Homo sapiens: one gene and its partners. The protein of the gene in region 3 purifies or fractionates together with the protein of the main gene of each other region. This does not show direct contact. Each region holds a gene or a part of one and is shown on either strand. Other genes may lie near its edges.

Region 1 (3,751 bases), on a different chromosome or scaffold from region 3:
TTAAAAAACAATTTCAGTGTTTCTCATCAATGAAATTTTTGCTTGTTTTAATAATAGGGAGTAGTCATGCATTAAAAGTCCATTTTGAAATAAAATACATCGTGTAACTAAAATCAAAGTTATTGTTTTAAAAAAATTCAACTACTATAAACATAAATGTTAAATGAAAGAAAACTTTTCAAATGAAGATTTAGGCACTCTGAGGAATGACAACTATGACACAACCTTTAAACAACCAAAGTAATTGCAAAAGACAACCTGATAACAGATTAAACACACACCAACCTACCTAAATATTTTTCAAATATGTAAGTCAGTAAAAATTATAGTGGTAATCTTTAAAGTTCTATAGTATTTCTATTTTTTACTCATGTATATTACTTTGTTTTTAGAGAATAGATGTTGAAATTGTCAACTGAGTACTCTTCATTTTCTGATAAAAGCTACATTACACCATTTAAATGAATTATTGTCCAACTTCATTTTCTAAAATAAGAAGATCTTGACTTGTGGATTTCACCTCTCCAAGCCACCTATCATGACAATTAGATTCAATTATACTCTTTCCTGCTAACCCAGTTTGTCTCAGAACCTTTACAACATTGCCTCTTAGCAGCTACTCACAATGGATCAGAGCTGGTATATAAGATAAAACCTACATGTCATCTTTAAGGAGTAATACATATCCATTTTAGAAAATGTAGAAAGTGAAGAAAATTTTGCAAAGTCATCATAATTCCACCACAAAAACCAATCACTATTAACAGAATATAACATGAGTGTGTGTATGTTAGGAGTGAGAGAAATGCAGAGAAATTTTCTGTAGACATACATTTTTTAAAATCTAGGTTCATACTCCATATCAGCATGCCCATTTCACCACACCCTCACCTCACCTAGATTACTAAATAAATATAATCAAAACATGTGCCCAAAATGTTTGCCTGTGACTAATTTCTGATCTAGTGAAATTTAATTTTGAAAAATACAGCAAAACCCTTAAACTAGCGATCTCTATTCAATCAACAAATATATACAGAACAATTACTGTGCTCATGTGTGGAATAAAAGTAAGATATGGTAACTATTTGCTGACAGCTTAAAAATTGATATGAAAATATGACAGCGAATATAAACCCTCACCTCTCTTTTCTGCAAAGGCCATGTGCAGCAATTTTCCTACAAACTTTCCGGTTTAATTCGGAACTGAACAGTGGAATTCCAAAGCACAGCTCGAGAGGAACCCAATCTGCTTCTGTTGTGGCACCTAAGAAAGGATACATAAACTTATTTTTTTATCATATATATCTACTTATGTATATATTATATATAACTGACAAGGGTTTCTTAACCTGAAGTTCATAGATTCCTCCTGCCCCACTGATATCCACCAGTGGGCTTGGCAGGGGAGGAAGAAATTGAAGGGGGTCAGTTAATCTCTAAACAGGATAGGCATTTTTAGGGTATAAACATGTGTCTGAGAAGGTACATAGCTTTCATCCAATGTTCAAAGTAGTCATTTGCCCAAAAAAGAGTATTGCAAGATATCTGTAAGATGAGAGAATGAATCAAAACATTTACCACAGGAATAAGATTATTTTCAAGTCATAATTTTATAATACTTGAATTATTTTTCTAAGTATGTAAAAAGGCTTCCTAGAAAACTCTTATTTAAAAGTCGTATGAATAATAAGAATAGACAAATGGCATGCAAATGCCTTAACATAAAAGTTAAACCTCAGAAATTAGTCTAATAAAATTGGAAAAAGTTTTAGCACCATACCAGAGGTTTGCTTTGTTGCTGAATCTATAGTTGCTTCCTCAATGACCATTTCAAATGACTCTGTACTCCCATTTACATCTGAGCCAGAAGCCAAATCAGGTTCTCCTTATAATTAAAGGGCATACACAATATTAGGATTCTAGCAGTTAGCAGAAGCTGCCAATAAATCAGTCCTAACATGGAAAAGACTTCAGACAATAGTAATGATGACAGAAAGAAAATGCATAATCCTTGGCTTAAATAAGTGGTTTTAAACAGGGGAGCAATTTTGATCCCCAAGGGACACGAATGAAGACAGGGATGCTATTCGTATCTATGAATGCTAAACATCTGACCATACACAGGACAATCCTCCACAGAAAAGAATTAGCCAGCTCAAACTGCACATAGTGCTGAGATTGAGAAACCCTGACCTAAAGAAACAAAATTCAAAAAGGAGGACCCAAGTTACTGAAGCCAATTGCACCCCTGTGGAAATATATAGTCTGATTATGTTATTACTCTTCAAAGTTCTTTTCTGACTCATTATCTTTCAGCACAGAAGATCCTCCAAGATCCCTTAGACCTTATCTACTTCTCTACTCTCATCTTCTACTACTGTCCAACAAATCCTTTCTTTTGGCCACAATGAACTACTGTTTTCTAATTCCCCTCTGCCTGAAAGGCTGCCACCCTCCAAAAACACATTATCTTTTGTCTACCTAACTCTTCAATTTTCAAAACTCAAACTTCACCTTCTCTAAGAGGCCTTCTCTGTGCTGTGTTAGCGCTTTATGCAGACCCCATCATAGTCAATAACACCACACTGTATACTGACTCACTCGTCTCCTCTCTAGGGTTTTCATCCTTGGAACAACATTGTCTTTTTTGTTTCTTTTTTTTTTTTTTTTTTTTTTGTAGAGACAGGGTCTTGCTCTATTGCCCGGACTGGTCTCAAACTGCTAGCCTCAAGCAATACTCCTGCTTTAGCCTCCCAGAGGACTGGAATTACAGGCATGAGCCTGTACCTGGCCATGCCTGGCCTGGTCTTATTAAATTGCTCCAGCACCTAAGCAGGTATTCCATAAATGTTTGTGGAATGAATGACATAAAAAAGGAGAGCTGTAGTAGATACGCTTTGAAATGACTGCTTAAGTCATAGCCCTCTTCTCTAGAAAATGCTCCTGCAATATTTGGCAGTCAACTATTTGGCCAAAGACAAATGAGATAGGAGTAAGTACCTATCTCAATGGGAGCCAACCCAATCTACTGGATGGCAAGTAATCAATCACATTTCCTCAGAATTTCAAACTAAGAGGCTCATGGAATACTGTCAATCAATGGGAGATAATGAAAGATCTCCCAGAGTCAATGGATAAGAACTGGCACCACGGCAACCCAAACCACATATATGCCAATATTATGCCAGAGCAGAAACAACTAGTAAGCATGAGAAGGTGATTTGAAAATGGATTTTCAAATTAAAAAAAAAAAAAGTAAGTGATATCTAAGGAAAATTAGCTATTGTCAATATGTAGGACAGACTGGAGATAGAAAGGAGAGGCCAGAAAGGCTAAGCAGGGAATGGTTGCAACAGCACATGTTTAAGGTTTAAAGTTCAAGACCCAGACAAGAAGAGCAGTCACAGAGAATTTAAAATGAAGAGAAAGGGGAAGAAATGGACATGAGAGACTTATCTAAAGCCTAATTCACAGAACTTGGAAACTAACTGAACATAGTGGAAAAAGGAAAGAATGAGACAAAGGTAAGATTTTAGACCTAGATAATTAAGACAATGGTACCTTTTGACAGAAAAAGTTGAAAGGGAAAAACTATTAAGTCAATTTTGGAAACACTTGTATAAAGAGACTTGAGTTTTGAAACCATCACCCTATAAAGCTAACCTAATAAAGCCTAATAAACACAGATATGACAGTAGAGCACCCAAAAGTCCCAAACCATTCTGTACCCCAATCCTATTTTCTTCAT
Region 2 (3,751 bases), on a different chromosome or scaffold from region 3:
CTGTAGTCCCAGCTACTCAGGAGGCTGAGGCAGGAGAATGGCGTGAACCCAGGATGTGGAGCTTACAGTGAGCCGAGATCATGCCACTGCACTCCAGCCTGGGCGACAGAGTGAGATTCTGTCTAAAAAAAAAAAAAATCCAAACTCCTTCGTAATCTTACAAAACTTCAGGACAGACAGCTGAATCTCTCTGGCTGCCTCTTATTTCATCACTCCTACAAGTGTCCCATCTTTAGCCATCTTTATGGCACGCTACTTACTTCTGTGTATATTCTTGCTTTTCCCTGCAATGCTCCTTGTCAATTTTTTACTTGGCTAACTACTGTCTACTAGTCTTGAAACTGTAGACTTCTGTGACTCTCCTCACAACCAGGCAATATGCAGCTCCTCTGTTTTCTCACAGCGTGTTACGCAAGTCTCACTTATCACACTATCACGCTGTGAGTCTTCCTTATAAGATGGAGAATTATCTGAGGGCTTTCATCTCCATATCCATAGCATATGGTAAGTGCTCAAAACTAAGGAATGACTGAGTGGTCTTGTAAATGGTAGAACTTTCATCTGCCTTAAAATGATCTAACAACTAGCATTTAATAACTCACCCTGTATTGACATTAAGTCATATATATGAAAATTCTAGGCTACCCCAAATAGGTTGTTATATTTAAAAGCTATTCAACACTTACACGTAAGACTTAATGAGAGCTTAGTGATACACAGTATTAAACTTTAGACTAGACAACATGTTAGCGTCAAAGTGGGATTTTACTTACCTTTACAACATCAGCTTTATGCTTTTCTAAAACTTGAAGAGTTTGGGCAGTAATGGAATCAATCACTACCACAAGTGAATGACATCCATAAGCAATTAAACCTTGCCAGCCCCTAGCAAAACAGTAATGTTAAAGTTTAAGTACAGAACAAAGCAGGACGACTTCTTTCTTGCCAAGCCTAAATAAATGATAAGTCTAATTCATATGTACCACCATTAATAAAATCATTTAAACCCAAAGGCCAGTATTTATCATTATCCCACTTAAATAAAAGATCTGGCTAAGCTTAAAATGCTTGTTGAAATTCACTTTTCATTCGGATAAAAAAAGTTCTAAAAGATATGAAAATAGAGACCCGAGGACATAAAAAGGAACTTGTGCCCTCTGACTGTTCTTGTAGGCATACGTCTTTCGCTTATCCGATTTCTAATCCTTAGTATCCACAATGTGCCTGGGGATACTGCGACTAATCCTAGTCCTTCCAACTAAATAAAACGACAAACACTGCACAAGACGTTTCAGTCCTCCTAACAACATCCCACAGCCACAGAATTTTGCTTTACATTTGTCTAATGAGTAGTTTTCAGAGCTGCAGTAGTAATTTATAGTGAAAGGAGAGAGTAATAAAGACGACCTGTTGAAGGCAGGAATGTTCTACACAGGAGGAGCCCGAAAAGAGGTGAAAAGGACAGGTGAAAGAACAGGCGCCTAGCACAGGGTCTGGCACATTGTTGAAAGACAACAGGAATACAAGACAACGAAAAAGAAAAGACAGGATGGGAAAGAGAAAGTGCACAGGGAATTAATGGTGGAGAGAGAGAAGCCTGGAAGCTGGAGGAGAGGAAAAGAGAGAGGAATGGAACGGCAAAAGGGCGAGGTGCAGAGAAAACAGCAGAGAAATACGCGAGAAAGAGGGGAAATGTATTTGCATGGGGGAATTTCCCACACGGGGCTATTATCACTTTTGTAACAACAAAAATCCACCAACTGAAAGCAAGCTCATTGCGTGAGGGCGGCTCCCTGCCTTAGCGAGGCCAAACTAACCAGGGGGTGAAACCTCTTGTCCTTCCCCCTTCCCCCTCACACATTCCTGGCCGATCCTGGCGACCTGGAAGCTCGGCGTCCTCACCAGTCCACCGCCGCCTTGTTGTGGGCGTTGAGGGCCCCCGTGAGGGTGCGCGCCGACACCTTGAAGTTCACTGTGTAGGGCAACATCCCGGCGGCCAGCCCAGGACCTGGGCGCTGACCCGCAACCAGGAAGCGGCGGACACTGTGCTTCCGTTCCAAACAGAGTCCGGGTGGCCCCCTCGGCGCCGCTGTCAGGTTCCTCTAGATTCAAGTTCTACAGGCTCCGGGTTCCACCGCTCCCGGATTCCATCGCCCCCAGGTTCCGTTGCCTTCAGTTTCCTAGGATCCTAGGTTCCGCACTCTCCAGAGTTCCGCCGCTTAGGCGGTTGTGCTAATCTGCGTCAGCTGGGGCTGTATTTGGAAGAAGAGGCGCTGCCTCCAGTCAAGTCTGTTTTTTTCAGGTGGGGACTGTAGGCCTTTGTGCCCTGCTGGAAATCGTGAAAAGCAAGAGAGAAGAGTCCCAGTTATTCTTGCTGCCTTTGATAAGTGAATTTAGGGCAACTACTAGTGCCAGTAGGCATGGGGGATCTACCGATGAAGAAGACACAAAGTCTCCGCTCTCGTGGAGTTTACAGAGAATAATGAATGAGATTAATTAAGAAATGAATGAGATTAATTGAATGAAATTGCCAGACTGAATGAAGTGAATGGCCTGAATATAAACAATTTCCAAATACAGATAACACTGCATATCTGGTGTTTGCAATACTCCCTTCGCACTTGAGGAAGAAGCACTATGTCTGGGGCCAAGTGTGACCCTTTGTCTGTTGCTGGGTACCTTTCATTTCGCACTTTCTCCTCTGCTGCTCTCCAGGTCAGACCCAGTCCTTCCCTCCTTTGTGTTCAGTGTTGGGTTTATACGCTTTAACTATAGCACTTAATGCAATGATTTCTTTTCAGCAATGATATTTGCAGATGTGTGTTTCTCTCCCCAATACATTGTTAGTTTCATGCGCGTCCGTGTGAAGAGACCACCAAACAGGCTTTATGTGAGCAATAAAGCTGTTTATTTCACATGGGTGCAGGTGGGCTAAGTCCGAAAAGAGTCAGCGAAGGGAGATAGGGGTGGGGCTGTTTTATAGGATTTGGGAAGGTAATGGAAAATTAGTCAAAGGGGGTTGTTCTCTGGTGGGCAGGGGTGGATCTCACAAAGTACATTCTCAAGGGTGGGGAGAATTACAAAGAACCTTCTTAAGGGTGGGGGAGATTACAAAGTACATTGATCAGTTAGGGTGGGGCAGGAACAAATCACAGTGGTTGAATGTCATCAGTTAAGGCTGTTTGTACTTCTTTTGTGGATCTTCAGTTACTTTAGGCCATCTGGATGTATACATGCAAGTCACGGGATGCGATGGCCTGGCCTGGGCTCAGAGGCGTGACATTCCTGCCTTCTTATATTAATAAGACAAAACAAAATAGTGTTGAAGTGTTGAGGCGGCGAAAATTTTTGGGGGGTGGTATGGAGAGAGAATGGGTGATGTTTCTCAGGGCTGCTTCAAGTGGGATTAGGGGTGGCGTGGGAACCTACAGTGGGAGAGATTAAGCTGAAGGGAGGTCTTGTGGTAAGGGGTGATATTGTGGGGATGTAAGAAGAAACATTTGTCGTATAGAATGATTGGTGACGGCCTGGATACGGTTTTGGATGAATTGAGAAACTAAATGGAATAAGAGAAGGAGAAAAACAGGTATAAAAGGTCTAAGAATTGGGAGGACATAGGACATCTGATTAGAGAGTGCCTAAGGAGATTCAGCATAGTCCTGCCAGCAAAGATTATTTATTTACTTCAAGAGTTTAGAGTGGCAGTTTGGGGATAGCACCAGGAGATATCAGCTGTGATGGCTTGGAGAAA
Region 3 (3,751 bases):
GAGGCCGAGGCAGGTGGACCACAAGGTCAAGAGATAGAGATCATCCTGGCTAACACAGTGAAACCCCGTCTCTACTAAAAAAAAATACAAAAAAATTAGCCGGGCGTGGTGGTGGGTGCCTGTAGTCCTAGCTACTCGGGAGGCTGAGGCAGGAGAATGGCGTGAACCCGGGAGGCAGAGCTTGCAGTGAGCTGAGATCGCACCACTGCACTCCAGACTGGGCAACAGAGGGAGACTCTGTCTCAAAAAAAAAAAAAAATTTTTCAGGGCTGGGCAAGGTGGCTCATGCCTGTAATCCCAACACTTTGCGAGGCAGAAGTGGGCGGATCACTTGAGTCCAGGAGTTCAAGACCAGCCTGGGCAACATGGTGAAACCCCATCTCTACCAGAAATACAAAAATTAGCCAGGCGTGGTGGTCAGTAGTCCCAGCTACTGGGGAGGCTGAGGTGAGAGGATCACCTGAGGCCGGGGAGGTTGACGCTGCAGCGAGCCAAAGTCATGCCACTGCACTCCAGCCTGGGCAGCAGAGCAAGACCCTGTCTCAATTTAAAAGGAAAAAGAAAAAAAAAGGATTTCTTTTTGGCTAATCACCAAGCACACTATCAGTATGTGGATTTGTTTGCCCCAGCCTTGAATGAACCAGCCAATGAGGAAATCAGGATGAGGTTCCTAGGGGATAGGAGGAATTGACGGTTTGACTCAGGGAAAGCTCAGTGGAAATAGAGTATCCACTGACATGTACAGGCCAGAGATGCAGGGAAGATGAAAGCACATGCATGAATTATGCTGAAGCTCTTTTTACCTGAAATCATCACCAGAGGGAGTTTCTGCATTTGTGCCACTTGGGCTTCCGTCCTCACTGTCCCCTCGTTGCTGTGCCAATCTACAAGCCACAAAACCAATAGTGCTATCAATTATGGGCTCTAAACCAAGAGGAGTATGGGGGCCTGGCAAGCAGGGTAAGGCAAGGAGTCAACTAAAAATGCTGCAAGGTGGAAGTGCACTGCCTATCCTCATGACAAGGAAAACCCATACAGCAGTGCTGACAAGAGCCCCTTCTCTCTCCAGGCCACTTAACGGGTGGAGGAAAGGCTAAATACCCAGAAGGTTCAAGGAAACTCCTTTAAAAACCAAACTTGACAAGGCCAAGAAGGTTCCAGGAAAGTCAGAAGGAGGAAAAAGAGGAATCAAGAACAGAGGAAAACCAGAGGGTGGGGATGGGGGTGTGTGTGACAGAAATGGGAGAAGTGGGGAGATAATGACAGAAAGGAGAGGGGACGGGAACTGAAATTATTGAGCATGCGGGGCACTGCGCTAAACAAAGGGCAGCCGCGAGAGTAAGAGGCTGGGATGATATAGGGGCAGATGAAGGGCACAGGCATGGTTGGGCCAGGCATACAAGTCCACGACGGGGGCCAGGAAGAGCAGCGGGAGGCGAGGAGCGCCCTTCAGGCCAGAGACCTTGGCTGGGAGAGGAGAAGATGGCTTTTAGGAGCGGCCGGGCCGCTGGGCCGGGGGTGGGGTGCAAGGCCGGGCGGCGGGCCGGGGGCGGGGCCGCAGGGGCGGGCGGGCTGGCAGGCCGAGCTGGGCGCCAGCACCTGCTTCCGCGATAGCTGTAAAGACAGTAGTGGCTGCTGGACGGCGGCTCGAGTCTCCGCTCCTCGGCTGAGCCTCCCTCTTCGCTGCTCTCTAGTTCCTTTTCATCTCCATCCATCGACTCCTGCAAAGAGGGGAGCATTGCGGCGGCCTCTGAGCGGCCCTGTGTCTCCGCCAAACCGCTCCCCTGCTCCCGTGCAGCCGTCGGTATCAGGGCTCGTCCGGCTCCCGGCCCTCGCACACCTGCGTTCCGCTGGTTTCCCCGGGTTCGCAGGCAAGGACTGGCCTGGAAAGGGAGTCTCTTCTCCCCACAGGGGCTGACAGGCGTACTGAGTTCGCCTTTACTGACAAGCTTTTACCATTTATTTTGAACTTATTTTCCTTTGAGACATCTGGGAAACTTTCTATGTGATAAAGGTGGCACAACTACCTAGCCACATGGAAAAGAATAAGGCTACTCGTCTGCCTCCTTGCGCGCGTGCCAGCACGCACAGACACCCGTTTGATCAAAAAGTTAAGAATTTAAAATGAATTTTGTTAAAGTGAAAATATGGGATAATTTTGTTAATTCTTGAAGAGGGTCTTTCCAAACATAACAAAACACTTAGAAGTCATACAGGAAAACGTTTAAAAAAATGACTACGTAAAAACTAAAAGGCCGGGCACGGTGGCTCACGCCTGTAATTCCAGTGCTTTGGGAGACCGACGCAGGCGGATCACTTGAGGTCAGAAGTTCAAGACCAGCCTGGGCAACATGGTGAAACTGTGTCTCTACTAAAAGTACAAAAAAATTAGCCACGTGTGGTGGTTCACGCCTGTAATGCCAGCTACCCTTCCAGTCTCTGCCCATTACCCAGTTCTAACACCAATTCACATTTTCAGGTGTTTGTTTCTGCAACACCCCATTCTCTGGTACCAGTTTTCTGTCTCAGTCCATTTTATGATGCTATAAAAGGATACCAAAGACTGGGCAATTTATAATTAGCTCTTAAAGGCCCCACTTCTTAATAGTCTTACAATGGCAATTACATTTCAACATGAATTTGGGAGTGGACAAACACTCAAACCATAGCGCCACGTGAAGGAGGAGGCAGACTGGAGTGATGTATCTACAAACCAAGGAATGTCAAGGATTGATGGTCATCACCAGAAGCTAGGAGAGGACATGGAACAGATTCTCCCCTAGAGGCTTCAAGAGAGTATGTCCCCACCAGCACCTCCATGTCAACTTCCAGCCTCCAGAACTGTGAAATAATACATTTCCATTGTTTTAAGCCACCGTGTGTGTGTGCATGCGTGTGTTTTGTGTTTTTTTTTTTTATTTTTAGTAGTGCAAACTTTATTCATAAATAAAACTTCATAAAGTTAAAAGCAGGGGCAGTTCCTATTTTTAAAAAGGAATAGTGGAAGGCAACCTGCCATTTCATTTAAAATTACAAGTTAGGTTTTTCAGATGGATAACAGTTGAGATCGTTAAATCCCCTTCCTGCTTCTCAGATTTTCACAAAATAGCACATTAAATCCTCAGTCCTAAGCAATTATGGCAGAGATTCCAAATTGCCTCTCCATATCAAAGTGGATAGCACAGTTTCTTCTCTTGCAATAAAGGTACTCATTTGATGAACAAGTGAGTATAGCAGTCAGATTCTTAAAAGATTGTATTGCAGAAGTTACTGCCATGTCTTCATTCGCAATGGGTATCCTCACCTCTATCTCCCATTCAGTAACATTGTCAGTTTCCTTATCTCTCATTTCAACTACATTTAAAAGAGGATTCTGATTGCGGACAACACATGACAGAGGCATTTCAGATCGGCAGTAGTCTCTTGAGATATACTTGATTTTAGTTTTAAGCAGAAGAACTTCCTGGAGAGGTTGAGTTACCACAGTCATGAGGATGGTAGAAAAACTCATAGTAGATATTTGGCAAAACTAGGTTACAAGGCAGCCATCTCCTAGAAACACTTCATCGGGGTTCATATACAAATTGTGAAATATCGTGGGTTTAATCCTGGCACAGAACCAAAACTGGGTGCATTGTACTTGAATAGCCGACCAGTCCCCAGCACAGGTCCATATCAAGGAATTGAGAAAAAAGAGCCCATTTAACCGCAAAATGGTCTTCATTTGCCCAGACTGAAAGCCAAATCTCAC

What was found.
Region 1: the proteins of C17orf75 (region 3) and FAM91A1 purify together in Homo sapiens (affinity purification with mass spectrometry; 3 studies listed by BioGRID and IntAct, with this or other methods). This does not show direct contact.
Region 2: the proteins of C17orf75 (region 3) and WDR11 purify together in Homo sapiens (affinity purification with mass spectrometry; 3 studies listed by BioGRID and IntAct, with this or other methods). This does not show direct contact.

Annotation. Positions count from the first base shown.
Region 1 is NC_000008.11:123,806,409-123,810,159, reverse strand, and holds part of FAM91A1 (protein FAM91A1), read right to left. Parts: intron 1,889-3,751; coding exon 1,784-1,888; intron 1,268-1,783; coding exon 1,144-1,267; intron 1-1,143. UniProt on the Homo sapiens protein: As component of the WDR11 complex acts together with TBC1D23 to facilitate the golgin-mediated capture of vesicles generated using AP-1.
Region 2 is NC_000010.11:120,849,658-120,853,408, reverse strand, and holds the start of WDR11 (WD repeat-containing protein 11), read right to left. Parts: upstream 2,048-3,751; 5' UTR 1,989-2,047; coding exon 1,903-1,988; exon of another isoform or gene 1,882-1,902; intron 1,645-1,881; exon of another isoform or gene 1,408-1,644; intron 886-1,407; coding exon 774-885; intron 1-773. UniProt on the Homo sapiens protein: Involved in the Hedgehog (Hh) signaling pathway, is essential for normal ciliogenesis.
Region 3 is NC_000017.11:32,340,401-32,344,151, forward strand, and holds the start of C17orf75 (protein Njmu-R1), read right to left. Parts: upstream 1,774-3,751; 5' UTR 1,740-1,773; coding exon 1,600-1,739; intron 1,554-1,599; exon of another isoform or gene 1,401-1,553; intron 885-1,400; coding exon 804-884; intron 1-803. UniProt on the Homo sapiens protein: As component of the WDR11 complex acts together with TBC1D23 to facilitate the golgin-mediated capture of vesicles generated using AP-1. May have a role in spermatogenesis.